Regions from separate parts of the Homo sapiens genome. Here regions 2, 3 and 4 are each linked to region 1. Evidence: fine-mapped expression QTL. A gene starts in region 1. Each other region holds a variant in brackets. All regions are shown on one strand. Distances are between the middles of the regions. Region 1 holds the start of UTP18 (UTP18 small subunit processome component). Region 2 has its middle 31 kb from the start of LINC02071. Region 3 overlaps LINC02071 (long intergenic non-protein coding RNA 2071). Region 4 has its middle 31 kb from the start of LINC02072.

The links. PIP is the estimated chance that this variant, and not a neighbour inherited with it, causes the effect.
Region 2: its variant is the best candidate, but not a certain one, in a credible set for the expression of UTP18 in whole blood (INTERVAL, PIP 0.89).
Region 3: its variant is the best candidate, but not a certain one, in a credible set for the expression of UTP18 in whole blood (INTERVAL, PIP 0.87).
Region 4: its variant is the best candidate, but not a certain one, in a credible set for the expression of UTP18 in whole blood (INTERVAL, PIP 0.77).

What each region holds. Positions count from the first base shown.
Region 1 is chr17:51,255,078-51,263,112 of GRCh38, reverse strand. It overlaps UTP18 (UTP18 small subunit processome component), which reads right to left and starts at 2,567. Exons shown (of 14, transcript NM_016001.3): 1 at 2,187-2,567. The coding sequence starts at 2,528. It overlaps MBTD1 (mbt domain containing 1), which reads left to right and starts at 3,064. Exons shown (of 17, transcript NM_017643.3): 1 at 3,064-3,278; 2 at 3,907-3,970. RefSeq lists an enhancer at 1,497-1,546 and silencers at 2,017-2,206, 2,557-2,666, 3,007-3,326.
Region 2 is chr17:51,300,148-51,308,182 of GRCh38, reverse strand. No RefSeq gene overlaps it. Among named protein-coding and RNA genes, the nearest start is that of LINC02071, 31 kb to the left of the region's middle. The variant A/T (reference allele first, on the strand shown) is at 3,830.
Region 3 is chr17:51,317,104-51,325,138 of GRCh38, reverse strand. LINC02071 (long intergenic non-protein coding RNA 2071) reads left to right here. Exons shown (of 6, transcript NR_110751.1): 4 at 1,407-1,506; 5 at 3,463-3,553. Among named protein-coding and RNA genes, the nearest start is that of LINC02071, 14 kb to the left of the region's middle. RefSeq lists an enhancer at 5,535-5,624. The variant A/C (reference allele first, on the strand shown) is at 4,452.
Region 4 is chr17:51,363,658-51,371,692 of GRCh38, reverse strand. No RefSeq gene overlaps it. Among named protein-coding and RNA genes, the nearest start is that of LINC02072, 31 kb to the right of the region's middle. RefSeq lists an enhancer at 5,094-5,594. The variant AAAAAAAAAAG/G (reference allele first, on the strand shown) is at 4,007.

The DNA of each region.
Region 1 (8,035 bases):
GAAAATGGAGAAATCAGAGAATGGCACCGACTGGACAGGTGAGGCAAGATGGAACAGTCAAGGAGAAAAAGTCAACACTCAACACGCAGGAAGGAAAACACCAAGTAAGACAAGAACAAAAGATGAGTCTGCAGATGAAAAAAGGAGGAGAAATGTCAGAACTACAGAAATTACAGGACCGGAGGCAAACTAGAGTCAAAGATATCTCCATTTTCCCAATCTGTTTTTGACCCCCTACCTCCTTAAGAAACTTTATACCAGCAGAGAGCGCAATGCCTCATGCCTGTAATCCCAACACTTTGGGAGGTCAAGGTGGGAGGACTGCTTGGGCCCAGGAGTTCGAGTCCAGCCTGGGCAACATAGGGAGATCTCGTCTCTACAGAAAATTTTTAAATTTAGCTGGGTGTGTGGTGTGCACCTGTGGCCCCAGCTAACTACTTGGGAGGCAGAGGCAGGAGGATCACTTGAGCCTAGGAGGATGAAGCTGACTTCTGAGTTTAAAGTGTTCGGAGAATTGTGCAGGTGTAATTTATCTGTGACCAACAAGAAGAGCAACCAGTTACTATTAGCAAAAGGGAGATGGAAGACTAATAGGTGCCGCTACACTCCAGTCTGGGTGACAAAGTTAGACCGTATCTCTAAATAAGTAAAAAATAAATATACCATTAAATCTAAATTCTAAAGTTATAAATTTATACCATAAAGTTTATACTATCAAATCTAAACCTAGGCCGGGTGCGGTGGCTCACACTTGTAGTCTCAGCACTTTGGGAGGCCGAGGCGGGCGGATCACGAGGTCAGGAGTTTGAGACCAGCCTGGCGAAGATGGTGAAACCCCGTTTCTACTAAAGATACAAAAAAAAATTAGCCAGGCGTGGTGGCGCACGCCTGTAATGCCAGCTACTCCAGAGGCTGAGGCAGGAGAATCGCTTGAACCCAGGAAGTGGAGGTTGCAGTGAGCCGAGATGGCGCCACTGCACTCCAGCCTGGGCGACAGGGCGAGTCTAAAAAAAAAAAAAAATCTAAACCTAGACCACAGAATATCCCTTGAAGTGAGTTTGAGCTTCCCAAAACCAATGATAGAAATGTCCAAGTGGTTTCTACTTGCTCTACTACTAGTCTAATAGCCTTCAAACCCAACAGCTCCCACCTCCGTACACTGTTCCTTTTCCAGACGACAAAACCGTCGCACAGTTCAGCATGTTTCCAGTAATAGTTCTGTACTTCCCAAAAAGATTGCTGCCACTTCTCCTACAAGCACCCGAAGGCGGCTCTGGTAAGCAGCTGACATTAACTAGGTCAGCATTTGTGTAATAAACATGGCCTGGGTAATTCTCGGTGAGCTTTCCTCTGCCCCCTTTATCTAAAATTTCACAGGCCTCTACACACGCCCATCTCCCTTTCCCGAATGTCCTTTTTTCTCTTCAGCACTTGTCACCAACAAACCTGAAGTTTACTCGTTTATCTCCTCTATCTTGTCTCTGCCACTAGCACACAAGCGCCAAAAGGCAGGGATTTTTGTCAGTTTTGTCCATTGCTGTGTCTCCTCCAGTGCCTAGAACAATGTCCGGGACTCTCTCAAGAAAAGCCTGGTATAGAATTTAAAGGGATAGCAAAATGTGTGCAAAAAGTATGATCAATCACGCAGGGTTTGCCATTGCCAGAAAGGGTATCTGGCAACTAACAGGTTCACCAATATTTGCTAAATGAACGGAATACACGATCATTCTCAAAACATGGTGGGTCTCATAGTCACATGGGGACATAGTTACAACGGAGATGCCCAGGCCCGTGCCCACGAATTGATTCCATCAACGAAATCGAATTCCTGAATCACAAGGAACTGAGGCAGGTGATCAAAAGACCACCCTCAGTTTGGGAAGAGGCTAGCGGAGTCGAGCAGCAGCGAAAGATGCTCACGACCACAGTTCGCAAAGCAGATACCCGAGCAGCGGCGCCTCCAGGGGCGGAGAAAGACGCGGTCCCCGCCCTCCAGGCACTTTCAGTCTGGAGCAGGGAGGCGAGGGACCCGCAGCTGCGACCCTCCGCGCCCGCGTTCTCGGGCTCCCTCCCACCTGAGCGCTCCCCGCCGCCGCAGGTCGCCCAGGCTCCGCCCCCCGGAGCTTCACCGCCCACCGCGCGCCCCGCCCGAGTGCGCCCAGCCCGCGCGCCGCGGCCTCCCTCACCCTCGGGCCTCGCAGACGCCGCAGCAACGCGTCCTCGTCGTTCTCGACGTCGCCGAAGACCAGCTCCTCCAAGCACCGCTCCACGGCCGGTTTGTCCTCCTCCAGCCTCAGGCGGTTCCGCTGCCGGAGCCGTCTCTCTTCCTCCGCCGCCGCGACTGCAATCGCAGCGGCCGCCGCGCTCGGCCGGGCCGGCGGTTTCCGCTGGGATGAAGGGGCAGGCTTTTGGGGAGGCCCGCCTGGCCCCGCTCCGGCTTTCCAGTCCGGCCTCATTCCGGGCTTCCGCTTCGGCTTCGCTCCGGTTCTCCGGTCCAGTTTCATTCGTCTCCTCCGCTCCGGCGGCATCGTTAGGTTTGAGGAGAAACGCAGGCGCTCACGTGGAACCTCGCTGCGCATGCGCCCAGGCCCCTCGCGGGCCGCCGCCGCCGAAGCCCCGGGGGCCGGAAGGAGCCTGCGCAGCCTCTTGCCACGTGACCAGCACTCCCTCCCTCTACGTAACTCCCGCTCCCCTACCCAGCCCCGCCCCGTGTGGGAGTTCCTCCGGGAGGGCCAATCTTCCGGGTGTAGGGGGAAGCGGCGTGACTGGAGTGGAAAATTTTTCCAACACAATTTCGCAGCTGCAACATATTGAAAGGAGCGCAAGAAACCCCGACTATACACTGGGACGGCTGAATGGAACTTCTGCTTTTCCTCTTGGCTGTAACCACTTGACTTGACACAAGCCCCAATACGCTTTCCACCCTTCGTCTTGGTACGGTCCTTGGAGTACGGAGCCTGCAGAGGGTCCCACGGTGGAAGCGAGAGAGGAGGGTATGTAGGGAAGTGGGCCAATCGGGGCGCGGGTCACGGCGCAGGCGCGCTGGGGAGGGAGGGCTATGCTAATGTTGTTGATATCCTGGGGCCACCCGAGTTAAAGGGGGGAAATCCGGGGGCTGCTGCACCCGCCACCGGTCTGGGCCCAGCCGGGGGCCCCCTGTAGTCGCCGCAGTCCCGGGGAGAGGCACCTGCCCCCAGCCCGGGGAGGGGGCGCCGCGGGCTCGGGGAGCACGGACAACCCCTACCCATGAGGCCCTGATGGAAAACACAAAGGATCTGGTGAGAGCCGAGCGCGGCAGCCGCTTTGTGTGCCAGGTGGGGGGGACGCCTGCAGCTCTCCGACCCCAGGAACCCCGCAGCTCCCTGACCCCGCTCCCTGGCCTGCTTCTCCATCCCACGCCCTCTCAACCTCCGGAGCCCCCCTCCCCCTTCCAGCCGTTAAACGATTCAGGGGTTCCCCTCCCCCCACCCCGTCAGCCTTGGACTCGTTGGGGTTCTCTCCATCTCCTCCACCCTTTGGAAGAAAAATTCGAGAAGAAAGTTTTTCTCTGCGTCCTGCCCCCGCCCCCTGCTCTGGCTAGGGGGGAAAGGCTGGATCCGAGACTTTTCCTTTTTTAGCCACCCAGGGTGGGAGAGTGGAGTAGTCCTCTCTTCTTGGCGGGGAGGGGGAGCACAGTTTCGTTGCTTTGCAGGGGAAGGTGTCTATCTGCCTTGGGGGCAGTGCCGCGAGGCGGTTTGCACGTGGAGGTGGAAATATTGAAAGGGGGCGGGGTGGGCACGTGCGGGAGAGGTGGGAGTGGTGTTTGGGAAGCAGCCTCCAAGGCTGCATATTTAAAAGGGTTTCAAGTCGGTGGACTTCTGTGACCATTGCGTTCTCCTTTGTGAAATAAGAATCCTAACATTTCAGAGTCGGAAGAGACATTAGAGGTCATCCAAAGCAGCCGTCCCCTCTGCAGCCTCTCTGACAAGTGGTAGGTAGTCTGAACCCTGCTTACACCCCTAAAAGCACTGAGAGCTCACTACTGCCCAGGAAAGCCCATATTTCAGTAGTTCTAATTGTTGTCTGCCTACCCTTATTAGACCCTTCAGTCTCATTCATGTCCTGGTTAAGTTGCTCCTTTTTTTACTTCTCAAATTTTCTCTCACATCCTCCTCACCCACCCACTGCTCATTGGCCTATATTTTGTGTGCCAAGAAAGAACAGCAGGGAAGTGGAGGAAGGGGGGTTGAGAGATAGTGAGGGCTAGCCGAAAACTTTGCTGGGTCAGTGTCAAGTGTGCTGGCTTACATGCCTGAAGATGTTTTTCTACAGGAAGCTAAAGAATTACAATATGGGAATTTCGTGCCTGTTTTCTCTTAGGAGTGCATCTTTTTGAAGTTAGAAATTTCAGCGTCATCTCCGTGGTTCTTGTATCACAAAACACATTTGTTTATTACCTAAATCACTTCTAAGGATGTCTAAAACTGAAGTGGTTAGAAGCATCACCTGGTAGAGGGATGATTAGATGATTACCGCCCACACCCGTATTTGACCTGTGTTCCTCGGAAGCTAGTCTTTCCTCCAAGGGCCTCTCTTCCAAATGCTTTTACTCCTTCTTTTTTTTTTTTAAGTAACTATCTTTTATGAGATTTGAAATTTACGAACCATTTTAATACTTGTTTAGAGTTTACAATATTTTTAATTCTCCTTATATTAGCATGCACCAGTACTTATCACTGGGTGGTTGAGATAGTTGAAACTATTGTCACTGGGTGTTTTTCTAACATTCTCCTTCATTTGGTGAGCTATGCTGCCTCTAAAAGTAGTTTTATTGGCCTAAGAATCTTGGATATACCTATTACTCTCTAATGTGGTGAAGTGGGTGTCAAGACATAACAGGTATAATGTAGAAATAATGCATGTGATTTAAAAGCCAGCAAATAAATTTCACCTTAAGCCCCAGTCTCCTATTTAAAAGGTTAGACTCAATTTTTCTCTCCTCCTCTTATAACTTAGAGACTGTTGCTTTGCTCTTGTGGACTTAGACTGTTATTTTATTTTTCATTTGTTTACCTCAACACCAGAGTGTTTAGAAAGAAAATAGCTGTACTTTTTTTTTTTTTTTGCACCACCTCCTTCTCTGAATAACAAGTAGCTTCTATCTATCTAAAACCCCATACTGATTGCTTGTGAGTACCTTGCAAATTATGGCAACATCTGTCTTGAATAAGTATTTATTCATAGTGCCTTACGTTGTTGCGTCATGCTTTTTAACCATCCAGTTTCTAACTTTATGTAATGTTTGACATAAAATATTTCCTCTAAATCTACTCATTAGAATTCAGCTTGTGAAAAAGAATCAGTAGAGGTGTAATAATAGTGTTTTTAACATTTTAATTAATAAGGAGTTCCAAGTTTTTTTCCTGCTTACTTTAAACATGAACTGTCATGACTTAAGTTGACTGACTTTGGAGACATCTGCATTCTAAACATACTAGACAGGAACAACTGGTTTTATTTTTAAGACGCTGCCATATTCTTTAAAGCTGGTTATATGTTGACCTTATTATCTAAACCTTTCTAGATGTTCTAGTGCTGCTTTTGGTCCCTCAATAATGTTGAAAATTAAAACAACATTTTAAATTGTTTTCAAATGTAACATAGTGATCAAAGGAAAATATAAGCTATAGTTTAAAAGTGAAAACAACATATTAGGATAAATACTAAACCACTGAATTACTAAAAGCCAAGAGTGCTCAGTAGTCTGAGTAACCACATTCTAAAATTAGACAAGTGACATTCTTTGGGTTGCTCTTTGTTTCTCAGCTTTTCATCTTTAAAATGTTTGCTAAATAAGATATAACCTTTCACACTTATGTATCATTAGTCTGAGGGTTTCAAAATTCAAGAAAGAATAAAAACATCAGGACAATAAAAGAGAAAGGACTTACAATAGTTAAAACAAGCTAAGATATTTCTCCTAACACCACAGTATTCTTAACTGTGCAAGATGACTTTTGATTTCAGGCAAAAATTGCACATAGATTTAATCATTATTTTTTAATAAACCTTGGCTTAAGGATTTTTTTACCTGCAAATTTAGGATTTCTCTTCTTGCTTTGCTGGAACCCACAATAAAAGGTGAAAAGGAAATAATTCCCATTTGAACAAACCCTGAATATGAGATAGGATGAAGTGATACAATAAGAGGGGTGCTGGCAGTGAGGTTGATGTCACAATTCTGCCATTGAGTAGCTCCATGGCCCTTGTTGGACAAGATCCTGTGCCTCCATTTTCTCATGGCAGTTGAAGGGTTAGTCTAGTATCAGCATAATCCAATAGAAGTTTCTGCAATGATGGAAATTTCCTATATCTTTGCTGTCCAGTTACGGTAGCCACTAGCCACATGTGGTTGTTGAGCACTTGAAATGTAACTAGTGGAACTAAAAATTGAAGAACTCAATTTTTAATTTTGCTGTTTTAGGCAATGTAAATTTAAGTAGCCAAATGTCTGGCATACTGGACATACACACATAGAACACTGTTTTCTAAGCATAACTAATCATTATAATCACTTCTTGGAGGCTCTTGTTAAAATACTAAACTTCTCTCCTATAACTTATTTAGTAGGTCTGCAGTGGGTCCTGGGAATGTGTTTTTAATGTATACCCCAGAAAGTTTATCAGGTTGGTTAGGGAAACACTCCATTAGGAGATTTCTGAGGTCCCTTCGAGTTCTCACTTTAGCACTGATAATTTAGAATTTAGTCTAGTAGAAGTGAGCTCTGGACAAAGTCAGCAAGCTACCTCTCTGAACTGCGATCTTAGGTGAGTTGTGTAACCTCTTTGAAAGCTTCACTTTCCTCATCTGAAATACAGGGTGAACATCAGCCCTGCCTCCTGTAGTTTCTGTAAACCTCCACTCAGATGTTATGCCCGCTGTTTAAAAAAAGTAAGCTGCTATAAAAGATGAGACAAGTCATAAGATAAAATGTTAAGATGTGTTCCCAGGCTTTCCTTCTTTTTCCTTTTTCACTATGTTTAATTCCTACTACTAGTCTTTTAAAACTGGTTGTATATAATACTCATTAGTTTGTTCAACGTTGTGGCCCAATTATTTGGCCACCGTTTGCAGTCTTAATTGTAGGACAGGAATGTTAAGTCTAATACTTCTTTGTATTTCTGGTGCTAAGCATAGTGATTTGTATATATCGTTCAATAAATATTGGTTAATATTAACCAGGTGTGTTGGCTAACGCCTGTAATCCCAATACTTTGAGAGCCCAGGACAGGCAGATTGCTTGAACCCAGGAGTTCAAGATCAGCCTGGGCAACATGGCGAAACCCTGTCTCTACAAAAAAAAATTACAAAAATTAGGTGTGGTGGCACACCCCTGTAGTCCCAGCTACTCGGGGGCAGAGGTGGGAGGATTGCTTGAGTCTGGTGGGAGACCCAGGTTGAAGTGAGCCATGATTGTGCCACTGGACTCCAGCCTGGGCGACAGAGTGAGACTCCGTCTCAAAAAAAAAAAAAGGAAAAAAAAAAGGTTATCATCATCTATTACTTTAAGACTTCTAAGCTTTAAAATTTGCTAGAGATTATTTTATACACCAGAGAAGTAGCCCCCTTGTGTATCTGTATGTGTTTAACCCATCTTTGTTTAATTATTAACACCCTGTAGTTACTATTGTTCAGTGATTTTATATCTTCTGAGCAACCAGTTCCAAATATATTTTTTAAAGGTAAACACCAAGAGAATGTTATCATTTCAGATCAAGTGTTTTTAGGTTATATCAGATCAATATGATACTGAATAAGCTGTTGAATTTACTTTCTCTTTTCTTTTTTTTTTTGAGATGGAGTCTTGCTCTGTTGCCCAGGCTGGAGTGCAGTGGCATGAGCTCGGCTCACTGCAGTCTCCGCCTCCCGGGTTCAAGTGATTCTTCTGCCTCAGCCTCCCGAGTGGCTGGGACTACAGGCAAATGCCACCACACCCAGTTCATTTTTGTATTTTTAGTAGAGGTGGGGTTTCATCATATTGGCCAGGCTGGTGTCA
Region 2 (8,035 bases), 45 kb before region 1:
ATCTTTTCTAAAAAACAGCTCCTGGATTCATTGATTTTTTTGAAGGGTTTTTTGTGTGTCTATCTCCTTCAATTCTTCTCTGATCTTAGTTATTTCTTGCCTTCTGCTAGCTTTTGAATTTGTTTGCTCTTGCAGATTCTCTAGTTCTTTTAATCGTGATGTTAGGGTGTCGATTTTAGATCTTTCCTGCTTTCTCTTGTGGGCATTTAGTGCTATAAATTTCCCTCTACACACTGATTTAAATGTGTCCCAGAGATTCTGGTATGTTGTGTCTTTGCTCTCATTGGTTTCAAACAACATCTTTATTTCTACCTTCATTTCATTATTACCCAGTAGTCATTCAGGAGCAGGTTGTTCAGTTTCCATGTGGTTGTGCGGTTTTGAGTGAGTTTCTTAATCCTGAATTCTAGTTTGATTGCACTGTGGTCTGAGAGACAGTTTGTCATAATTTCTGTTCTTTTACATTTGCTGAGGAGTGCTTTACATCCAACTACGTGGTCCATTTTGGAATAAGTGCGATGTGGTGCTGAGAAGAGTGTATATTCTGTTGATTTAGAGGGGAGAGTTCTGTAGATGTCTATTAGGTCTGCTTGGTGCAGAGCTGAGTTCAAGTCCTGGATATCCTTGTTAACCTTCTGTCTCATTGATCTGTTTAATATTGACAGTGGGGTGTTAAAGTCTCCCATTATTATTGTGTGGGAGTCTAAGTCTCTTTGTAGGTCTCTAAGGACTTGCTTTATGAATCTGGGTGCTCCTGTATTGGGTGCATATATATTTAGGAAAGTTAGCTCTTCTTGTTGAATTGATCCCTTTACCATTATGAAATGCCCTTCTTTGTCTTTTTTGATCTTTGTGGGTTTAAAGCCTGTTTTATCAGAGACTAGTATTGCAACCCCTGCCTTTTTTTCCTTTCCATTTGCTCGGTAGATCTTCCTCCATCCCTTTATTTTGAGCCTATATGTGTCTCTGCACGTGAGATGGATCTCCTAAATACAGCACACTGATGGGTCTTGTCTCTTTATCCAATTTGCCAGTCTGTGTCTTTTAATTGGGGCATTTAGCCCATTTACATTTAAGGTTAATATTGTTATGTGTGAATTTGATCCTGTCATTATGATGTTAGCTAGTTATTTTGCCCATTAATTGATGCAGTTTCTTCATACCATTGATGGTCTTTACAATTTGGCATGTTTTTGCAGTGGCTGGTACCGGTTGTTCCTTTCCATGTTTAGTGCTTCCTTCAGGAGCTCTTGTAAGGCAGGCCTGGTAGTGACAAAAATCTCTCAGCATTTGCTTGTCTGTAGAGGATTTTATTTATCTTTCATTTATGAAGCTTAGTTTGGCTGGATATGAAATTCTGTGTTGAAAATTCTTTCCTTTAAGAATGTTGAATATTGGCCCCCACTCTCTTCTGGCTTGTAGAGTTTCTGCCAAGAGATCCGCTGTTAGTCTGATGGGCTTCCCTTTGTGGGTAACCCGACCTTTCTCTCTGGCTGCCTTTAACATTTTTCTCTTCATTTCAACCTTGGTGAATCTGACAATTATATGTCTTCGGGTTGCTCTTCTCGAGGAGTATCTTTTTGGTGTTCTCTGTATTTCCTGAATTTGAATGTTGGCCTGCCTTGCTAGGTTGGGGAAGTTCTCCTGGACAATATCCTAAAGAGTGCTTTCCAACTTGGCTCCATTCCCCCCGTCACTTTCAAGTACACCAATCAAACGTAGATTTGGTCTTTTCACATAGTCCCATATTTCTTGGAGGCTTTGTTCATTTCTTTTTACTCTTTTTTCTCTAATCTTGTCTTCTTGCTTTATTTCATTAATTTGATCTTCAATCACTGACATCCTTTCTTCCACTTGATCGAATCGGCTATTGAAGCTTGTGCATGCATCACGAAGCTCTCATGCCATGGTTTTCAGCTCCATCAGGTCATTTAAGGTATTCTCCACACTGTTTATTCTAGTTAGCCATTCCTCTAACCTTTTTTCAAGGTTTTTAGCTTCCTTGCAATGGTTTAGAACATGCTCCTTTAGCTCGGAGAAGTTTGTTATTACCGACCTTCTGAAGCCTACTTCTGTCAACTCATCGAAGTCATTTTCCATCCAGCTTTGTTCTGTTGCTGGTGAGGAGATGCGATCATTTGGAGGAGAACAGGCACTCTGGTTTTTTGAGTTTTCAGCTTTTCTGCTCTGGTTTCTCCCCATCTTTGTGGTTTTATCTACCTTTGGTCTTTGATGTTGGTGACCTACAAATGGGGTTTGGGTGTGGATGTCCTTTTTGTCGATATTTACGCTATTCCTTTCTGTTTGTTAGTTTTCCTTCTAACAGTCAGGTCCCTCAGCTGCAGGTCTGCTGGAGTTTGCTGGAGGTCCACTTCAGACCCTGTTTGCCTGGGTATCACCAGCACAGGCTGTACAACAGTAAATATTGCAGAACAGCAAATATTGCTGCCTGATCCTTCATCTGAAAGATTTGTCCCAGAGGAGCACCCGCCTGTATGAGGTGTCTGTCAGCCCCTACTGGGAGGTGTCTCCCAGTTAGGCTACACAGGGATCAGACATCCACTTGAGGAGGCAGTCTGTCCATTCTCAGAGCTCAAACACCGTGCTGGGAGAACCACTGTTCTCTTCCGAGGTGTCAGACAGGGACGTTTAAGATTGCAGAAGTTTCTGCTGCCCTTTATTCAGCTATGCCCTGCCCACAGAGGTGGAGTCTGTAGAGGCAGTAGGCCTTGCTGAGCTGCAGTGGGCTCCACCCAGTTTGAGTTTCCTGGCCGCTTTGTTTACCTAATCAAACCTCAGCAATGGCGGATACCCCTCTCCCCACCAGCCTGCAGCCTCGCAGATCTATCTCAGACTGCTGCGCTAGCCTTAAGCAAGGCTCCGTGGGTATGAGTCCCACTGAGCCAGGCATGGGAGAGAATCTCCTTGTCTGCCAGTTGCTAAAACTTTGGGAAAAGTGCAGTATTTGGGTGGAAGTGTCCCGTTTTTTCCAGGTACAGTCTGTCACAGCTTCCCTTGGCTAGGAAAGGGAAATCCCCAGACCCCTTGCGCTTCCTGGGTGAGGCAATGCCCTGCCCTGCTTCCGCTCACCCTCCATGGGCTGCACCCACTGTTCAACCAGTACCAGTGAGATGAACTAGGTATCTCAGTTGGAAATGCAGAAATCACCCATCTTCTGTGTCGATCACTCTGGGAGCTGCAGACCAGAGCTGTTCCTATTCAGCCATCTTGGAATGAAAATTAGAGCTTTTATATATTTTTAGTAGTGAAACATTGTGTACACAATACATAATTACATAGACATATTAGGCATACCAGTAGAAGTACATCTTATAGATTCATAAGACCTACTTTTTTTTTTTCCTGTCTTAGACTTGCAAACTCTTCATAACCTGTTTCATTACCCTGGCAGTTGTCAGCTAAATTGCCTTAAATCTGCATATCGAAGGAAACAACTCTTAGGTGAAAAATCAGGTAACAAAATTTACATCTCAAGGTACAGAGAGAAAAAGTCTGGTGTTGCTAGAGGGAGATTAAAGATGGATGCCAAATCAAACATAAAATTATAGAAATCTATCATAGGATTGTATAAGGAAACCAATTTTATTTAGATACGGACTATCTGCCTTTTAAGTGGATCTCTGATCTCTGGGCAGAGCCCACACTGAATCCTGGATCTCCAAAAAGGGAGAATTACTATGAGGCTAGACCTCATGCTTTTCCAGTGCACTCAAAAAAAATTTTTTTAACAAAGACATTTCTAAGTGTCTAAACTACATTCTTCCTTAACAACCCAAGAGTTGCCTCTGTTGCAATAACTATTTTAGTT[A/T]AAAAAATCAGGTAACACAATACAAAAGAAAGCAGTTTGAAAGCTGAGACGAACTTGTCTGTTTACACTCTTTGGATTCCATAAGGAAAAACAGACATTTCCCAAAAGGGAGTCTGGCACCTTCTCTGTTTTTTTATTTATTTATTTATTTTTTTTTTTTTGAGACAGAGTCTCACTCTGTCGCCCAGGCTGGAGTGCAGTGGCGCTATCTCGGCTCACTGCAAGCTCTGCCTCCCAGGTTCACGCCATTCTCCTGCCTCAGCCTCCCGAGTAGCTGGGACTACAGGCGCCTGCCACCACACCCGGCTAATTTTTTGTGTTTTTTTTTAGTAGAGATGGGGTTTCACCATGTTGGCCAGGATGGTCTCGATCTCCTGACCTCGTGATCCACCCTCCTCGGCCTCCCAAAGTGCTGGGATTATACCTTCTCTTTTTCCTTTTAGGAACTTCAGACTATTATAAACTATTTTAGGTCTTCATGCAGCAGAGGGTGCAAGAGAAAGGAAGGACAGCAGAAGCAAATAAAGAAAACAGAATTCAGTCAACAGAGAAGAAAAAAGGTTTTGTTCAAAAAAAAGACAAGGTCCTAAGAGGAAAAAAAAATGAAGGCCTTTAAAATACAAACACTCACACACACACACACACACACACACACACACACACGCATCTTCGATGTTAGCTTTTAATTGAGCTGACTTTTAACCATTGAGCTCCTTTTAAAAAAATATTTTTAGATTTCATTACCATATTTCAAATAGGACAAATTGCTGCTATTTCAGAAGTACCAAGTATTAAACCAGAAAGGGCTTCATTTAGGGACAAAACCCAGGCTGTCGTGGTGATAAAAAGAAGGCAGAACATTGGCTATGGAACTCCACTGTAGGGTAACAGCCATTGCTCTTACAGTTTGGCCTGGCTAGCCAAAAGGTGGCCTTCTTATGTAAATAAAGCCCCTTAAGTAATCAAAATCAAATATCTTTCCTTTTTTTTTTTCTTTTTCCTGGCCATTTTTCTCCCCTCACCATACCACCTTTGTGTGTGTGGGAAGGGGGGTGTTGGGGGAGTATGGGGGAATTGAAAAACAGCCAGCAAGAGGGGAAAAAAAAGGAAAGATTGTTTATTTGGACTACTTAAGGGCTTTATTTACATAACAAGTCCACCTTTTTGTGTATGTTGGGAATTTAGCCAATTCAGAGGGCTTGTTCCCCATAATTTGAAACTTTCTTTGGACTTGATCAAGTCAGATACAGTTGGTCAAACCCAATGGGAAAAAGGTTGAAAGAACAAAAACAGAGACAAACAACAACAAAACCGTTAAGCAAAACAAACAATTGCACAACTTAAATGATTACTGAGCACTCTAATGGTAAGGAGAAATGAAGACCAGTTGGTTGTTAACCTTAACTTTAGCCAAGACAAACCCCAATTCAGTTACTTACCTAGGGACAGGTCTCAGGCTGGAGACTGCTCTCTATTATCCTAGAAGCAGGAAAAAAAACCCTCAAATTTGCCTTCCCTGTTGGGAGCAAGCTCAAAGCCCTAAAGGAGTAACCTATTTGTCATGGAAGCAGGAAAACTAGCCTTCCTTGTGCTGGAGGAAGCAAATAAAACTCACAAGAAAAAAAGGAGTTGTAAAGCAAAATAAACTTCAGATCTTGACCAAATTTTGAGAGATCAGGGATTCTCTGGAGGGCGTGCTTCCAGGCCTCAGCAAATTGCCCTATTGGTTTGAGCCATCAAGACAGCTCAAGATGGTACCAAGCACCAATAGGAGATTTGTCAAAGGCCGGGAGGCACCTCCACTCAGAGTTCCTTTGTGGTTACCAAAATGTGAACCCTGAATATCTGAGACAGGTCTCAGTTAATTTAGAAAGTTTATTTTGCTAAAGTTGAGGACTTGCACCTGTGACACAGCCTCAGGGAGTCCCGACAACATGTGTGCCCAAGATGGTCAGGGCACAGCTTGGTTTTATACATTTTAGGGAGACATGAGACATCAATCAATATATGTTAAGAGGTACATTGGTTCTGTCCAGAAAGGCAGGACAACTTGAAGCAGGGAGGGGGCTTCCAGGTCACAGGTAGGTGAGAGAAAAACAGTAGCATTCTTTTGAGTTTCTGATTAACCTCTCCAAAGGAGGCAATCAGATGTGCATTTATCTCAGTGAGCACAGGGATGACTTTGAATAGAATGGGAGGCAGGTTTGTTCTAACCAGTTCCTGGCTTGACTTTTCCCTTTAGCTTAGTGATTTGGGGGCCCCAAAATGTATTTTCCTTACATGCCTCTGTCCCCCTAAAATATCTAAAATCAAGCTATAACCCAACCACCTTGGGCACATGTTCTCAGGATCTCTTGAGAGTCTGCATCGGGCCTTGGTCACTCATATTTGGCTCAGAATAATTCCCTCAAATATTTTATGGAATTTGACTCTGTCGCCAACTTTTTGTTCTGTCTGTAATCAAGTCAGATTTTTTAAGTTTATAGAATTTTGATACAGGCGTGCAATGTGTAAGAATTGCATCATGGGGCTGGGCACGGTGGCTCACGCCTGTAATCCCAGCACTTTGGGAGGCCGAGGTGGGTGGATCACCTGAGGTCAGGAGTTCCAGACCAGCCTGACCCATATGGTAAAACCCCATCTCTACTAAAAATACATGTGGTGGGGGGCGCCTGTAATCCCAGCTACTCGGGAGGCTGAAGCAGGAGGATCACTTGAACCTGGGAGGCGGAGGTTGCAGTGAGCCAAGATTGTGCCACTGCACTCCAGCCTGGGCGACAGAGCAAGACTCTGTCAAAAAAAATAAAAATAAAACATGGCAAGTGGGCTATCAATCCCCTCAAGTTTTTATCCTTTGTTACAAACAATCCAATTACACTGTTATTTTAGAATGTACAATTAAGTTATTACTGACTATAGTCACTTTGTCACTTTGTTGTGCCATTAAATACTAGGTCTTACTCATTACAGAGAAAAATTGGAAACATAATGCTTTGAACCAGTCTTTGTAGCAGGGATTGGGCTAGAGAAAAAACTCAAGTTTAAAGTCAGTCTAAACTACCTAGCTTATGTGACAGTTAATGGAGAAGCTTTAACATTATAGGGAACATAAAAAGTGTTTGGGAACAGTGGAGGACAGGGTGTGGAAATGTGTCAAGTTTGGCATGGCAGCCAGGCACCCAGGCCAGTGGTCCTTTAATAAGAAATGTACATTGAGGTGAGAACGGTGGCTCACGTCTATAATCCCATCACTTTGGGAAGTTGAGGCAGGCAACTGCTTGAGCCCAGGAGTTCCAAGACCAGCCTGGGCAGTATGGAGAAACCCTATCTCTACTAAAAATATAAAAATTAGATGGGCGTGGTGGGGTGCCTCTGTAGTACCAGCTACTCGGGAGGCTGAGGTGGGAGGATCACTTGAACCTGGGAGATTGAGGCTGCAGTGAGCCATGATCATGCCACTGTACTCCAGCCTGGGTGACAGAGCAAGACCCTGTCTCAAAAGAAAAAAAAGAAATGTACATTGAATGTACCAATGTAAACATATCTGTTTATGGCCGGGTGCAGTGGCTCACGCCTGTAATCCCAGCACTTTGGGAGGCTGAGGCAGGTGGATCACCTGAGGTCAGGAGTTCGAGACCAGCCTGGCCAACATGGCAAAACCCCGTCTCTACTAAAAATACAAAAATTTAGCCGGGCGTGGTGGTGGATGCCTGTAATCCCAGCTACTCTGGAGGCTGGGGCAGGAGAATCTCTTGAATCAGGAGGCAGAGGTTGCAGTGAGCCGAGATCACAACATTGCACTCCAGCCTGGGTAACAAGAGCAAAACTCCGTCTCAAAAACAAAAACAAAACAAAAAACCCTATCTGTTTCTAAGTTATCTCTATGATCTACAGTATGAATACATTATGTAACAAGAATACTTTTTTTTTTGAGACGGAGTGTCACTGTGTTGCCAGGCTGGAGTGCAGTGGCATGAACTTGGCTCACTGTAACCTCCGCCTCCCGGGTTCAAGTGATTCTCCTGCCTCAGCCTCCCGAGTAACTGGGACAAAAATACTTTTTACACAGCATAGAAGTTCTAGTATTTCCTTCCCACAATCTAAAGGGCTGTATCTCATACCCTTAAGAGTATGCAAACCCTGCTTTGTGGACCACTGATCTATGTCAAAATGATGGCTTTGGGACCAAGATGCTCAATCTCTTGA
Region 3 (8,035 bases), 62 kb before region 1:
AATAATTGCAATAGACCGGGGTGTCCAATCTTTTGGCTTCCCTGGGCCACACTGGAAGAAGACTTGTTTTAGGCCACACATAAAATAAACTAACAACAACTGATGAACTTAAAAAAAAATTGCAAAAATAATCTCATAATGTTTTAAGAAAGTTTACAAATTTGTGTTAGGCCACATTCAAAGCTATCTGGGCTGCATGCAGACTGTGGGCCACATGCTGGATAAGCTTGCAATAGACTAAAACCATCAAATATATTTAAACCTATGGATTCATAATGATATTTTTTAAAATGATTGGTCACCCTCAGAGGATGATAGGGAATTAATTCATTGTCTTGAAAACTGGTATGTAAAGGGGGAAAACTCCAGCATTAATCCAGCCTTTCCCATAGGAACTGCACCACTGGGTAAACAAATAATAAACAAGGGTAAGTTTCCCTTTATAAAAGTATCCCAACTAATAAATGGAAAAGAAATGATAGAATATCACCATTCTGCAGCCCTCAATAAAGTACGTATGAATGGTTACAAACATAAAAAGAGACCATTAGATATTATGCACTTCCTATAATCATGCCTAACACCACCTACAATCTTGCCAAAGAAACTGAACCTGAGTTCTAATCCAGTCTCTGAACTACCTGCCAATTTGTAGAAAACACAGAGGACTGAGGAACATGCTTAACTGCACCATGAGTATGCAGTCAGCAAAACCCAGACTATGGGAAACTCTACAAGCCAAAAGGCCTGAATTCTTCTACAGGCAAATTGGAAAGAAAAAAAAGAGGGATGGAGGAAGAATTTACTGAATAATCGCGGCTTTAAAAAATTATCACTTTTTTTTAATGAGCAAGACTAGAGTATCTTGAGATGCGCATTTGGATCTTTAAAAAAACTTTAAAAAGTAAATGATTACTACAAAGGTCAAGAAAGTGACTACTTATAGAGAGAGAGGGGTAGGCAATTGGGATGAGGGAAAGGGGCACAGGTTCTGGGGTGGGTGGCAAAGTTCTACTTCTTAACTCACGTGGCATTCACAATAATTCATTAAGCCGTGCATTTGTTAGGTGTGGGTTTTTGTATCTGTGTTTTATTTTTCAATAAAAAGTTGAAGTATTCTTAAGTAAATTGGGAACTTTCACTCACAGAGTTGATGGTAGTATAAACTGATAAAGGTTTTTATAAGGCAATTTAGCCATATCCTTTTCTATTTCAAATTCATACTGGTCCCATGTGCCTCATGGGTTTGGAGCAAATGAAGTCATTAATGTTACTGTGGATGGATAAATGTGAAGGACAAAGATAAACACATAAGATAAACTCAGGCTGACCAAGCCCCTAGTAAGTGTCAGGGACAGTGCTTGAACCCTTTACACAGGTCTGTGAGATAAGAATCATCATTTCAGATGTGGCACCTGAGGCCCAGAGAGACGTTCAGCAACTTACCCAGCATCACCCAGTCCACAAGTGAAACACCCCTTCATTTCAGAAGTGAATACTCCAGAGGTAAGAAAATAAGCAAGCAATAGCCCTACCCTGCCAACCTATCGGACAACAAAGACGGATGAAATCAATGCTTTTATTGAACAAAATGGAATGTTCTTGGTAATGTGTAAAAGCAAGAGGCCCAGAGGCCTTGAATAAGAAGTTATCCTTTGTATAAAATGCAAGTAAAAACTCATTAGTATCTTTCCAGTAATATCATATATATTACAATACTTGATATAAAATTAAATCATTCTGCAATTTTCAAATGCACAAATATATGTTAGGTTTTCTTTCAAGTTGAAGGGACTCAAGGTAATTCCACCCAACAGACAACTAAGTTAACTCCCAGCTGAAGGCTCAATGTACTCACTGCATGAGCAGGAACCCTCCAGCCTTCCAGAGACTGAGTAGCCCTCCTGAATCCTCCTGAGAGGCCTGCATCCTGGCCTCACAGAAACAGGTAGCGTTTTGACTGGTGGGTTTCTGGAAACTATCACCAGGCAGAATTCTGACAAAAGGAGGAGAAGCTGGAAGGAAAGAGAATTCACAAACATGAAAGTTGGTCAGGCAGGTCCCCAAGGGAAATACCATTCATTTCAGAGGCCACTCAGAGGGAGAAGGAGCACTGAACTCAGAGTCAGACCACCTGGGGTCCTGACTGCCATTCACTGGCTCTGTGACCTCAGATCAAGTCATTTAACATTTCTGAAACTCAGCCTTCCCAGGGGTATAGAAGGGTTAATAACACCTGCCCTGCCTATCTCCCAAGGCTGCTGTAGGTATCAGATGAGAAAATAATAACAGCTGGCATTTATTGAATGCTTGCTATGTGCCAGGCAGTGGGCCATGTGCTTTATATGTCGTAGCACCTTTTAATCCTCCATCAGCCCTCTGAAGTAGCTTTGATTGTTGTCCCTCAGTGAAGAAACTGAGACTTGGAGAGTTTAAATAATTTGCCCAAGTTAAGGCTGACGTTAAACCCAAGTAGACTGACTCCAGGTTCTGTGTTCTTAACTCTGATGCCATACTGCCTCCTAGAGCACATCTCTAGAAAGACCTTGTGTACTTAACACTCTACAACAGAAGGTGGCAGTAGGTATGAACTGTCACCTATAACTCAATTCCTCCAAAAGTGAAGCAGAGGGATGCTTCAAGGGCACTTGTAAGCAAAGATTGAGGAATGTAGGGTGATTCCATGATAAAAGTCCTCCAAATGCTCACTCAGACGAGACAGACTCTGCTAAGTAGCAGGAGGGGGCATTATATCCTCCCCCAACTCCCACCCCATCCCTGAGAGACAGCCACGCATGCTCTCTAGAGAGAATTTCCAGTTTCTAGGATTGCATGAGAGAGTCCACTTTTTGCAGAGGAGACAAAAAAAGACTTTTGAGCACAGAGTCAAGGCCTTTGTCACTTTCTAGTGATAAAAGACAGGGACTCCACAAAGAGACTGGAAGAGCATGGGGTACTGTCATAGAAAGAGCATTAAAATACAAATCAGGACACCTATGCTCAAGTATGAAGACCTGGATCCAAAGTCCAGCTCTAACATTAATTAACAAGTCGTTTAACCTTGGACAAAGCCTTCTCACTGTCAGGATGACTTCTAAGGTACTCAATAAACATTTGATTCCTACAACCCTATCTTCTCTGCCTTAACTGGCCCATGGGCACTGGGATAAGGGAAGATGAGTAAGCAGTTATGAAGTGCCTGTTACATACAATGTACGGTCAGAGTCTTTTAAAAATCATAGTAGGGGTAATAATACATATCAAGAACTTACCCTGTGTGGGACCCAGTGCTAAACGCCTTATCAATGTAGCAATTCTATGATAAGAAAAGTTAAAAGACAAAATGATTACCCCATGGAAATAAGACAAAATGATTACCGTGTCCTTTAAAAGTCATATTAGAGCATTGTGTAAGAAGGAAGAGTCACAGTAGCATTTTTTTCTTTTTTTTTTTTGAAACAGGGTCTCACTCTGTCACCCAGGCTGAAGTGCAGTGACAGGACCACGGCTCATTGCATCTTTGACCTCCTGGGCTCAGCCTCCAGATTAACTGGTACTACAGGAGTGGGCCACCCACACCTGGCTAATTTTCTGAGAGACAGGTTTCACCATGTTGCCCAGGTTGGTCTTGAACTCCTGGGCTCAAGAGATCTGCCCACCTTGGCCTCCCAAACTGCTGGGATTACAGGTGTGAGCCACCACACCCAGCCCACAGGAGCATTCTATTGCCAAACTGAAATGGGGAGGTGGGCAGAACCATCAAAGAGCAGACACCCACTGGAGACCCAGGAGCTTCAGGAAGAACCCAGGGCTGGAAAAAGAGAAGCAGTCAATAAATGCACAGGGAGCTTTCACAGTAGGACAAGGAATTCCAGAGGACAAGGGAGAGCAGGCTTGGGGAGAAATGGGGTGAGGGGAAGGCGCTGGCATGAAATACTCCTGGCCAACTTCTACTCACTCTTCTGAACTCAGCTTAAACATGGCTTCCTCAGGAAGACTTCCAGGACCCTTCAGACCAGGTCCTGTTTCCTTGCCCTATGCTCCCAAAGCACTATGCCTTTCTCTTTTGGTCATGTTTGTCCAACTTGTAATTAACTAATCCATGACTTTGCCTCTGTGAGTGCTGGGAATCCAGCGTGAACCACATAGTGCCTAACATCCACAGGAAGTCCATTGATTCTCATTGGGTGGATGGGAGGAGGGATGGGTGGGTGGATGGATGATCTGAAAATCCAGATGAGGGCAACAGAAGGAAGATGTTGCATTTGAGGAAGCAAGAGTTTGGGGGAGAACAGGAGGTATATAAAAATAACAGCATATAACCTTACTGGAACTTTTGGGAATTTGATTTTATTTTACAGAAAGCATATAGGCAAGCCTATATATGCTTTCTGAAGAAGAGGTAGGATCTACAATGAGGGAATTTTATCACTGCTTAGGTGTCAATGAGA[A/C]AATGCATTTGCCGGCTGCTGGCTAATTCAGTTTCATGGTTTATTTTCAACTCATCATTTTTAAAACTGACTTGAATTTTGTCTACAGCTACCTATAGTTAATCTGTCCTTGTGCCTCAACATTCCCTCTCAAGCTCTTCTTTACAATTTAAACCCCCAAATAGTCCCAATTCCAAATATTCTGACTTGCTGTCCAAAAACCATCAAAATACCTCGGAATTTTCATCATGTCTACATTCATACCATGCCTCCAAGACAGCGTCTCACATCTGAAAATGGCACAAAAATCCCTAGTTAGCCCATGTATCTTGATTTGGGACTCAGAAAATGTGCTTTTAGCCCTCACCTCATATTTACTCTGTAAACCAAACATAAAATTCTAAACCCCTCAACTGACTGAATGGACTGCTGCCTCTTGGCCAAGGGCATTTCCAAAATAAACCTGAAAAACTAGTTCAGGCCATGATAGGAAGGGAAGTCGAACATCCCTCATTATACCCTCCTCCCTTTGGAATTCAGGCACAACTGATCAGCATTATCATTAAACAGAGATATTAAGACTGACAAAACAGACTCTTTGTAGCAGTAAGATACCAAATTCCAACCTGACCCTAATATAGCATCACATGACAGATAGCAGGCCCTGAAAGAATTCAAAGTATTTTACCCAAAAATATATTTCTTTGACATATTTTGAAATGGCCCTGCAAAGCTCTCTCTTGTAGGAAAAATCCATATTCTGTAGAGAATCCCCTTCCCTTTCCTGGTCTTTTCTGATCCAGGAGATAGTTAATTGAGAGTCTGGCAGCTTTTTAGGTCTGATAAGAGACATTTGCCATCTATTCTCTCTGAAGCCAGCTACCTGGAGGCTTCATCTGCAATAATAAGAACTTTGGTTTCCACAACCTCTTATCTTAACCCAAATCTTCCTTTTTATTGATTCCAGGTCTTTAGATAATAACTTAACTCTTTCGACCAATTGCCAATCAGAAAATATTTGTTTTTTTTTTTTTTGCAGGGGGGATGGTACATGTAGGATATAATAATGCTTCTTCAAAGGTGTTAGCCTATAAATTGTTAAGTACAATGAGTTCTGAGATCCTCTCCAAAGAACCAATGTATCAGTATGTTCAGCTCCCCTGTTCTTTGTTCCTCATTTTAAAGCTTAACTTCCTCATTCTTTACATCTCCTTGTCCCTAGTTTCAGTAAACAACCCCCTCCTAGCCTCTATTACCTGCTCTGACCTTAGTCACCCTTGGTCACCTGCTCCGACCTTAGTCATCCTTGGTCACCTGCTCTGTTCTTAGTCATCTTGTACCTGTTCTGTAACTGTCCTTCCTGCCAAACTACTCTCCCTGCCACTCCAGCTCATACCCCTGCTCTCTTTAAAATAGCCCACTGGAATGAGCTTAGACTGTGTGATCCAACCCTAGCCAAAGGGGAACAACACAGCAGTAGGGGCTACCTGTGTCAGGGATAAGAACCCCTTCCACTCCCTTGTGCTCTCGCCATTGCTCCATCTGCAAAACGCACCCTTCTATAGAAGTAAAATTGCCTTGCTGAGAAAATTCATGTTCGAGTGCTATTTCTTTTGCGGCACCATAAATTTATTTCTAACAGTGCAGGAGGAAAGACAAGAGCTCACTCTGTTACCCAGGCTGGAGTGCAGTGGCTCACTGAAGCCTCGAATTCCTGGGATCGAGCTATCCTCCCACCTCCCACATAGCTGAGACTACAGACATGCACCACTGCACATGGCTAATTTTTAAAATTTTTTGTAGAGACAAGGTCTCACTATGTTGCCTAGGCTGGTCTCGAACTCCTGGGCTCAAGCAATCCTCCCACTTCAGCCTCCCAAAGTGCTGGGATTACAGGCATAAGCCACCACGCCCAAGCTAGAAAATATTTGAATCCACCTACAAGCTAGAAACCCTCCAGCCCTTCAAGTTGTCCAGGCATTCCAGACCGAACCAATGTATACCTTACATGTATACACACTGATGTCTGCCTGTATCTGAGACAGGTCTCAGTTAATTTAGAAAGTTTATTCTGCCGGCCAGGTGCGGTGGCTCACGCCTGTAATCCCAGCACTTTGGGAGGCTGAGGCGGGCGGATCACCTGAGGTCAGGAGTTCGAGACCAGCCTCAACATGGAGAAACCCTGTCTCTACTAAAGATACAAAATTAGCCAGGCGTAGTGGTGCATGTCTGTAATCTCAGCTACTCGGGAGGCTGAGGTAGGAGAATTGCTTGAACCCAGGAGGCGGAGGTTGCGGTAAGCCGACATCATGCCATTGCACTCCAGCCTGGGCAACAAGAGTGAAACTCTGTCTCAAAAAAAAAAAAAAAAAAGAAAAGAAAGTTTATTTTGCCAGAGTTGAGGATGCACACCCATGACACAGCCTCAGGAGGTCCTGACGACATGTGCCCTAATTGATTGGGGCATAGCTTGGTTTTACACATTGTAGAGAGACATGAGACATCAATCAGTACATGTAAGAGGTACACATTGGTTCTGTCCAGAAAGGCAGGATAACTTGAAGCAGGGAGGGGGCTTCCAGGTCACAGGTCGGTGAGAGACAAATGGTTGCATTCTTTTGAGTTTCTGATTAGCCTTTCCAAAGGAGGCAATCAGATGTGCATTTATCTCAGTGAGCAGAGGGATGACTTTGAATAGAATGGGAGGCAGGTTTGCCCTAAGTGGTTCCCAGTTTGACTTTTCCCTTTAGCTTAGTGATTTGGGGGCCCCAAGATTTTTTTTCCTTTCACATTTCCCCCCTTTTCTTTTGAAAAGCTTTGGGAGAAAGCATATTAGAAGGAAATGAATCTCTGGTCTCAGGTTTCATCTGATCTCTCATGGCTAGGACAGTTTATTCCTAGATGGTAGGTCCCAAGTTATCAGGAAAGTTCACCTTTAGCAGGCTGGGAAGTCTCATGTCCTAGGAAGAGAAAATAGGGGGAGGAATCGTGAAAAACAACAAAAAACAAAAGAACAATCCTGGAAAATTGATATAGGCCACATTATTCTGAAGTCCATACAAGCAGGTAAGAAAGTGGCTTACATATGTATATGGTTGCTGTTATTTTCTTCTGATGTTTAAGTTGTCTAGCTTCAGTTTGCAGAGTTTTAAGAAAGCACAGCTTAGTTTTCAGTTATTTCACGTTAGGAAAATGGTGCGGGGGGGGGAAGGAAAAGAAAAAAGAAAAAAATGGAAAACATTATTTTGGAGACTTGTAGCCAGGAAAAATTAGAATTGAGTCCAAACTGTAGAAAATAATAAAAACTGAAAAATATTAGGCAAGACTAGAATCTAACAACAGATGTATTATAGTTTTTGAAATATAATTTTTCTCTCTCCTGTTACCAATTTTTACAAAAGACAAATAATCATAGGACCAATTTGCTTTATTATACTTGGCTAGACTATTTCTATAAAGTGAAGCAAGAATAATTATTTTTCACATAGGCTTTTAAAATTGGCTTTGATGGAACTTTGTTCCACAGAAGGAATCTCAGATAAGACTTTTTAAAGCCAAGTCCAGTCATGGATTTGTACCATCGAATACCTATGAGTTGAGTAAAT
Region 4 (8,035 bases), 110 kb before region 1:
AAAAAAAAAGCGTCCTGCTCTCTGTTTACCATTCCCCAAATCATATGCTTTGGGGATTCTCTGCAACTGGTTTTTTTATTTAGCTATTATAAAAATGATACATGCCCATCATTTACAAATTTAGGCCGGGTGCAGTGGCTCATGCCTGTAATCCCAGCACTTTGGGAGGCCAAGGTGGGCGGATCACAAGGTCAGGAGATCGAGACCATCCTGGCCAAAATGGTGAAACCCCGTCTCTACTAAAATACAAAAAATTAGCCAGGCGTTGTGGCGCGCACATGTAGTCCCAGCTACTCAGGAGGCTGAGGCAGGAGAATCGCTTGAACCCAGGAGGCGGAGGTTGCAGTGAGCTGAGATTGAGCCACTGCACTCCAGCCTGGGCGACAGAGCCAGACTCTGTCTCAAAAAAAAAAAAAAAAAAAATTGAAACATGACTGAAGAATTTAAAGACTAAAGTCAAAAGTCACCCCAAATGCAGCCACTCTGAACTACCAGCATTAGTATACGGGGCAAGTCCCTGCAGCCATCTCTCCATGCCACTGACAAGCAGAGAAGCAGATGGCCCAGTAGCGGTTCAGAGCTTGGGCTCTGGTGCCCGGCTGCCGGGGTTCCTGGTTGGCTTTGCCACTTCCTAATTTGTGACCTTAGGCAAATTCCTTAACCTCCATGTATCTTATGTTCTCACCTTAAAAACAGGGACAACAGTGGCATCTCTTACAGAATGGCTATAGGGACTTCCTCTGCAAACCTCAGAGCACAGTGCCTGGCACTTGGTAAACATTCACATGTCAGCCACTGTTAATGATGGATGGATGAACGGGCAGATAGCGAGATATACTTTTAGGAGAAGGATGTTTAATGTCGCATGTTACCTTCTTTTTTCAGTTTTATTTTTCCCCTTCTTTTCACAGATGGTGATGCATGTTACTTTTTACTTTAAAGAAAAAAGTATGAACTGTGAAAAGAACAGGATAGGGAATCCATAATTGGAGAGGCTAGGAACTGAGTAGCTGAATCCTCCTGGGTCCACAGGTGATTAGCCACATGTCTCCTGACTGGCTCTTCCTCCCCATCTGGTTTCCCCCTGCCACCAGCATGCCACCAGAGATGCTGCCCCTAGCTGTAGCAGTTCCCACTTGAGCTGTTCTCAATCAGGAGGAAAAAGGTGTGCTAATAACCAACCAGGGAGAAACGGAATCAGGAGAGAAAACCCATCCTGCTGCTGGCACAAATCTCTGAGAGCCAGCACCGATGCATTGCTCTGTCCAGGGGCTTCAAGGCCACTGAGGAGGATGAAAGAAATCAGTGACCATTTCTGCAGTTGTGAAAGGCAGCGGGCATACCACACCTCCTCACTGCCTTCATGTACTGCCCACTAACTGTGTATGATGCAGGCCTTCTCCCAGCCCCTAGCAGAACACGGACCTGCCCTGGCTCTGACTCCCCAGAACCCACAGTCAGGTGACTGGACCTCTTTCCACTCCAAACTGTGGGTGAGATGGCCAAGTGATGCAGAGCTGGCCATCACCAGGGCCAGCCTGCTTTCCAGCCCTCTGGCTTCCCCATCCAGGATTTGAAGAGTAAACCCAGAGTTTCCCAAAGCAGTCAAAGGAGCCCTGAGAAGAGTCACAGGGACGGAAGGAAAGTTCCTGCCACATAAGAATGGGGCATAAAAGGCTATGTCCAATTCCCCTTAGGAATCCCATACACCTGTAGGGAAAAAAAGAGGCTGGCAGGCTGGGAATGTGCTCACAGAAACAGCCAGCCTTTGGGAGAATGCCAAGTAGCAAGGGCATGGACACTCCCTCTTGCCCAGGACAGAGGCACACACCCTGGGGCTGCTATTCTCCTTTTGTCCTCCCCTCCCCTCCTGCAGTGAATGGAGGCCTGGACAGGTAAGAACGTCCCACAGAAAGGCATGTCCATGACGAGGCACTGGGAAAGAGAGAACAGCATTCCCAGAAATGTGTCCCAGGATTCTGCCAGACCACATATTTGTCACATTTGAGTAGTCCTGAGAAGGCCTCTAGATCTCTTCGTGTACTAGCTGGCTTTGTAAGTAGACATCAGATTTGGATTCTGGAAACTTGGGCTCAAGTCCCAATCCAGGCACTAGCCATGTGACCTTATGTAAGGCATTCCCCATCTCTGGGCCTCGGTTTGCTCAGTAGCATGACAGGGTAAATTAAGAGATGCCTCCTTGGCCTCCTCCAACTCTGACTCTACAGTCCTCAGTAGTGGCCGTAGCATGGAGAAAGGAGAAGAGGACTGATAGGGGAGGCTCCTGCTCAGCTTAGGTCCATCCCCAGATGCAGCAGATGAATGACTGACTGGTTATGTTTCCACTTTTCTGTCTACCCAAAACATGCCTGCCCTTGTTTAAGGAAGGCAACTCCTGATCTCCACCTTGATTTCACATCAGAAAGACATCAGAGAGACTCAGAGTGCAGCTGGGCAATCCTCACATTTTACACGCAAAGAAGATAAAGCTCCGAGAGTTAGAAGCATTGCTAGCAGTGAAACCCAGGACTCTGAGTCTACCTCTGCAGAGTGATTGCAAGCTTTCTGAAGCATGCTATCCTTCTGATTGAGACTGCCCAGAAACACAGGGGCTGAAATGACATTAGGGGCACTAGAGTGGTAAGCACAGAGTATGAACATGGAAATTATTAATTCTAGGAATCCAGCTGCATTACAGCCCAATTATTTACATAATCTCAACAATGGAAGTTTCATACATTTGGAGTTCATTAAATAATTGTTCTATCTTATAAGAAAGTTGGAATAATGCAGTGGCTTACTCTGTGGATCTAAAGAAAACAATGGACTGTGATCTTGACCCTGACTTCCCAAAAACATAAACGCCTGTTCTTGAAACAATTTCAAAGGATTCCCAAACTCAATGAAACTCACAAATAATCTACTAGGTGTTAAGGGACCCCAGATTAAGAGTCCCTGGAAAAGAAAGACCTCAGGCTTTTAAAAATTGACACATGAGATCTAATTAAACTAAAGAGCTTCTGCACAGCAAAAGAAACTATCATCAGAGTGAACAGGCAACCTGCAGAATGGGAGAAAATTTTTGCAATCTATCCATCTGACAAAGGGCTAATATCCAGAATCTACAAAGAACTTAAACAAATTTACAAGTAAAAAACAACCCCGTCGAAAAGTGGGCGAAGGATATGAACAGACACTTCTCAAAAGAAGACATTTATGCGGCCAACAAACATATGAAAAAAAGCTCATCATCACTGGTCATTAGAGAAATGCAAATCAAAACCACAACAAGATACTATCTCACGCCAGTTAGAATGGCAATCATTAAAAAGTCAGTAAAGAACAGATGCTGGAGAGGACATAGAGTAATAGGAATGCTTTTACACTGTTGGTGGGAGTGTAAATTAGTTCAACCATTGTGGAAGACAGTGTGGCAATTCCTCAAGGATCTAGAACCAGAAATACCATTTGACCCAGCAATCCCATTACTGGGTATATACCCAAAAGATCATAAATCATTCTACTTTAAAGACTCATGCACACATATGTTTATTGCAGCACTATTCACAATAGCAAAGACTTGGAACCAACCCAAATGTCCATCAATGATAGACTGGATAAAGAAAATGTGGCACATATACACCATGGAATACTATGCAGCCATAAAAAAGGATGAGTTCATTTCCTTTGCAGGGACATGGATGAAGCTGGAAACCATCATTCTGAGCAAACTAACACAAGAACAGAAAACCAAACACTGCATGTTCTCACTCATAAGTGGGAGTTGAACAATAAGAACACATGGACACAGGGAGGGGAACATCACACACTGGGGCTTGTCAGGGGGTTGGGGGCGAGGGGAGGGATAGCATTAGGAGAAATACCTAATGTAGATGACGGGTTGATGGGTGCAGCAAAACACCATGGCACATGTATACCTATGCAACAAACCTGCACATTCTGCACATGTATCCCAGAATTTAAAGTATAATTTGAAAAAAAAAAA[AAAAAAAAAAG/G]GAAAGAAAGAAAGACCTCAGGCTTCTTAGTTAAAATTCTAAGGTTCAAATCTCAGCTCCACTACTTACTAGTTATATAATCTTAACCCATTTTCCAAGCCTCTGAGCCCCCATTTCCTCAACTGTGAAGCAGAGGTGATACCTCTTCCAGTTGTGGGATTAAAGGAGATGTGAAATCCTATAATATAGGGATGCTGCCAGGCTTGCAGTCAGTAATAGGTGATAGAAACTGAGTGCTTTCTAAGCACCAGGCTCTGCCCTATGCACTGTATCTGCACTATCTCAACACCACTAGGAGACAGGTACTATTGTGATCCCTGTTTTATAGATAAGGAAGCTGAGACAGAGAGGTTAAGTATTTGCCCAAGATGGCACACCTTCTAAATGGCACAGCCAGTCAGTGGATTCCAGAGTCCATGCTTCTAACCACTACATCATATTATCTCATTAAACAATTTAATTTACTCCAGAAGTTTGGCTTTAAAAAAATTAAACTCAGAGAAGGAAGAAGAATGGAAAGAAAAAGATAGATCTTGGTGAGGAATGAGTTGACCCAAAGGCCCCTTTACCAACCTGTCTATTTTGTCCCTTTCTAGGGACAGATGTAGAAAAGCAGTGTCCTGAGTTCTGGGCAGCAGATGGCCCTGAAGCTCCATCTCACCCAGGTTGTGGCTGGCCGGTGCCTTGAAGACACATTTCACGTGCAGGCACTGCCCGAAAATGCTTTGCAAAAATCATCCCATTCAATTCATCCCACACACTCACAGTGCTATGAGACAGATGCTACCATTAGCTCCATTTTACAGGTAAGAAAACTAAAACACAGGTGTAAAATGTCCCCCACAACCACTGCTGCTCTAAACTACTACCACCACAGGGTCTCATAAACAGTTTTGGTAAAATGCTGAGAGGGGATAGTTCACTTGACCCCCTTTGCGGGCAGGAACTGGAGTGTCTCGTTTCACTCAGCCCACCACTGGCCACTCCTCGCAGGAGGGAGAGTGTGAGTGAGCGAATGCAGGAACCTGAGCGAACGAACACTGGAACTGGAACTGGCTGGTCACTCCTCTCTGGTGGGAGCAGGCTCTGTGTGGGCCCCACAGCAGCGTCCAAGCGTGTTACAACCAGCGCTCTTTCAGCTCTGCCATCAGGATCAGCCAAGTGCCAACCAGCTCAGGGGTCAGGGTGGCAGCCTCTGCCCTCTCAGCACCCAGGTTCTTGTCCAGCGTCCAAGAAGAATCAGGTCACATGGACTGTTTGAAAGGTGATGAGTGCGGAAGACTTTATTGAGTAGTGGGTGGCTCTCAGTGGAAAGGAAGGCTGGAAAGGGGATGGGAAGGTGATCTTTCCCTGAAGTTCAGCCATCTCCGGCCGGGCCCCTCTCTGAAGCCACACTGTCTGAAGTCAGCCACACCTATCCATAGTCTCTGATGCTCAGTTGCTTCTCTGCTCACTCCTCAGCCACTTGTATCCTCGATGCTCAGCCGCCTGTGTTGTTCTGCCAGCTAAAGTTTTTATGGGCACAGGATATGGGTGAGGCAGGCCAAAAAGGCAACAGTTGGACGGAAAAATGGGGTCAGCTGTTTTCACTTAAGGGGCAGTTCCAGGCTTAAGAATGGGGTTTAGCTGGGAGCCCAGCCCTCTGTATCAGTACGATGGTTAAAATCAGAAACTTTGGGGCCAAATCCAGTAAAACATGTGGGGGTGGGGAGAGGGGCTGTTGGGGAGGAGGGTTAAATAAGCACAGTCCACATACTGCACATTGGAGCTGTTTCTACCCAATGGGAACTGCATGGGTGTAAGGAACATGGCTGTGCTTTGGTCAAGGATAGGCCGAGGTAAGATGTTTACATCCCTGTGTGTCTCAGCGAGTTCAGAGCACAGGTGTAAAACTCCACTTGTTATCATAGCCATGTAGCCATCACTAGATGGGAAGGCCATCGCTTGGCTCTACACCACTATTGTCTATAAAAGGTATAATTGCCCTGTTGACACTGCACAGGTGCACTGGCACCCAGAGAAAGAGAGAAAGAGCCAAAGCTGTCCATCTGCAAGATGGACAGAGGGGAGCCGCGGCACAGCTCATGCTGGTGCCCAGAGAGAGAAAGGGTTAATTTGCTGACCCTGAAGGCAAGAGAGAGCAGGCCATGCAGCTGTGTGCGGGGGCCGCCGGACCAAGCAGCTGAGACAGGGTGGACAGTGTGAGAAAGCTGTTGGTAAGAGCTGCTGCTGAATAAAATAATTCACCTGCCTACGACCCCCCAAGTGTTCTTTCTGCTCATCCACCCGCTCCCTCTGGACCTCACCATGACCTTTGGCGTAGTCATGAACTTGACAATGGGTGCGGCAGGACTCATCAGAGAAGCCATCCCAAGGCTGGAGTAGATAAGTAGAGGAAGTGAGCTGGCAGACTTGAGTCAGGAAGTTGTTGGGCGAGGCAGGCGGCGCTTTAAAGGAGGAAATTGGAGGCCTGAACCCCAGTTAGAAAACAACAACCCACTCTGATTTTCAGAGCCCCTGGGAAAACTCAGCACTCAGGGCTCTGGCATAAACGACAGTGGGGCACAGGAACAGCCCTTGCCCCATCCCCTCCAGCCAAGTGAACCAGACCTCATTCTTTGGCTCTGAATTCAGCCTCCAGATAAGCAGCAACAAGTCAGTGGGGCAGGACGGAGACTTTCCAAAGGAAGAAGTGCAGGACTACAAAAAAGCTGACACCCTGTCTGCATATGCATCCCGACATCCCTCACCTTGCTTAAAAATAGTTGTTCCTAATCTTGGCCATACAGTGGAATTACTCGAGGAGATTTTTAAAAATACCAATCGTCTCTAGGGATGGGACTTGGAGATTCAAGTGTCAAAAAGCCACCAGGTGGTCTTCATGTGCAGGTAGAATTGAGGATCCATCCTCGATTTGTCACCCATCATGTCCTATCGAGGACACCTGCACTCTAAGTGTGGTCCACACAGCCTCCGCCTCAACATCGCCTGGGAACTTGTTAGAAATGCAGAATCACAGCTCCCTCCTCAGTCCCCTAGACTCGGAATCTGCATTTTAACAAGATCCCCAGATGATTCATGTGCACAGTAAAGTTTGAGAGATGCCAGTTTAGACTCTTACTACCCACCCACCACCACTTTCCATCTGAACAATCAGCAGCTGTTCCACTCCCCACCTCCCTTAGCCTGAGACAGGAATCAAGATGTAATGCAAGGGTTCCCAAGTTTTAGCATGCCTCAGAAGCATCTGGGCAGCTCATTTAAAATACAGATACCCAGGCTCAGGTGTGTTTAACACACACTCCCCACCCCAGGTGCTTCTGCCCCAGGTGCTCCAGAAGCTGTGAATGGAAAAGCTGTTATCGCGAAAGCACAGAGGTATTGGAATCAGGTGAATTACACCCTAAATTCTGACTCTGCCACTTGCTATCTATGTGAAATTCAGGAGTCACAAACATCTCTGAGTCTGTTTTATCACCTACAAAAATCAGGATGACGACATCTCACTTACAGTGATGTTATGGCTTGTATTGTGTCCCCCAAAAAGAAATGATAGACTCCTAAACCCCAGTACCAGAAAATGTTACCTTATTGGGAAATAAGATCATTGCAGATGTAATTAGTTAAAATAAGGTCATCCTGGAATAGGGTGGGCCCTTGATCCAAAATAACTGGTCTCATTAAAAAACACACATATACACAAGGGGAGAATGTTTTGGGACAACAGAGGCAGGGACTGAAATGCCATAGGTGCAAGCCAAGGAACACCAAGAATTGCCACCACCACCAGAAGCAAAGAAGAAGCAAGGAAGCACTCTCCCTGCTCCAGGTTTCAGAGGGAGTGTGACCCTGCCGACACCTTGATTTCAGACATCTAACCTCCAGAACTGACAGTCAGTTTCTGTTGTTTGAAGCCACCCAGTTTGTGGTGCTTTGCTATGGCAATGCTGGGAAGCAAATACCAGTGAGGGTCATGGATTAGGGAGTTAATATTTGGGAGATCCTACAAATACAAGGTA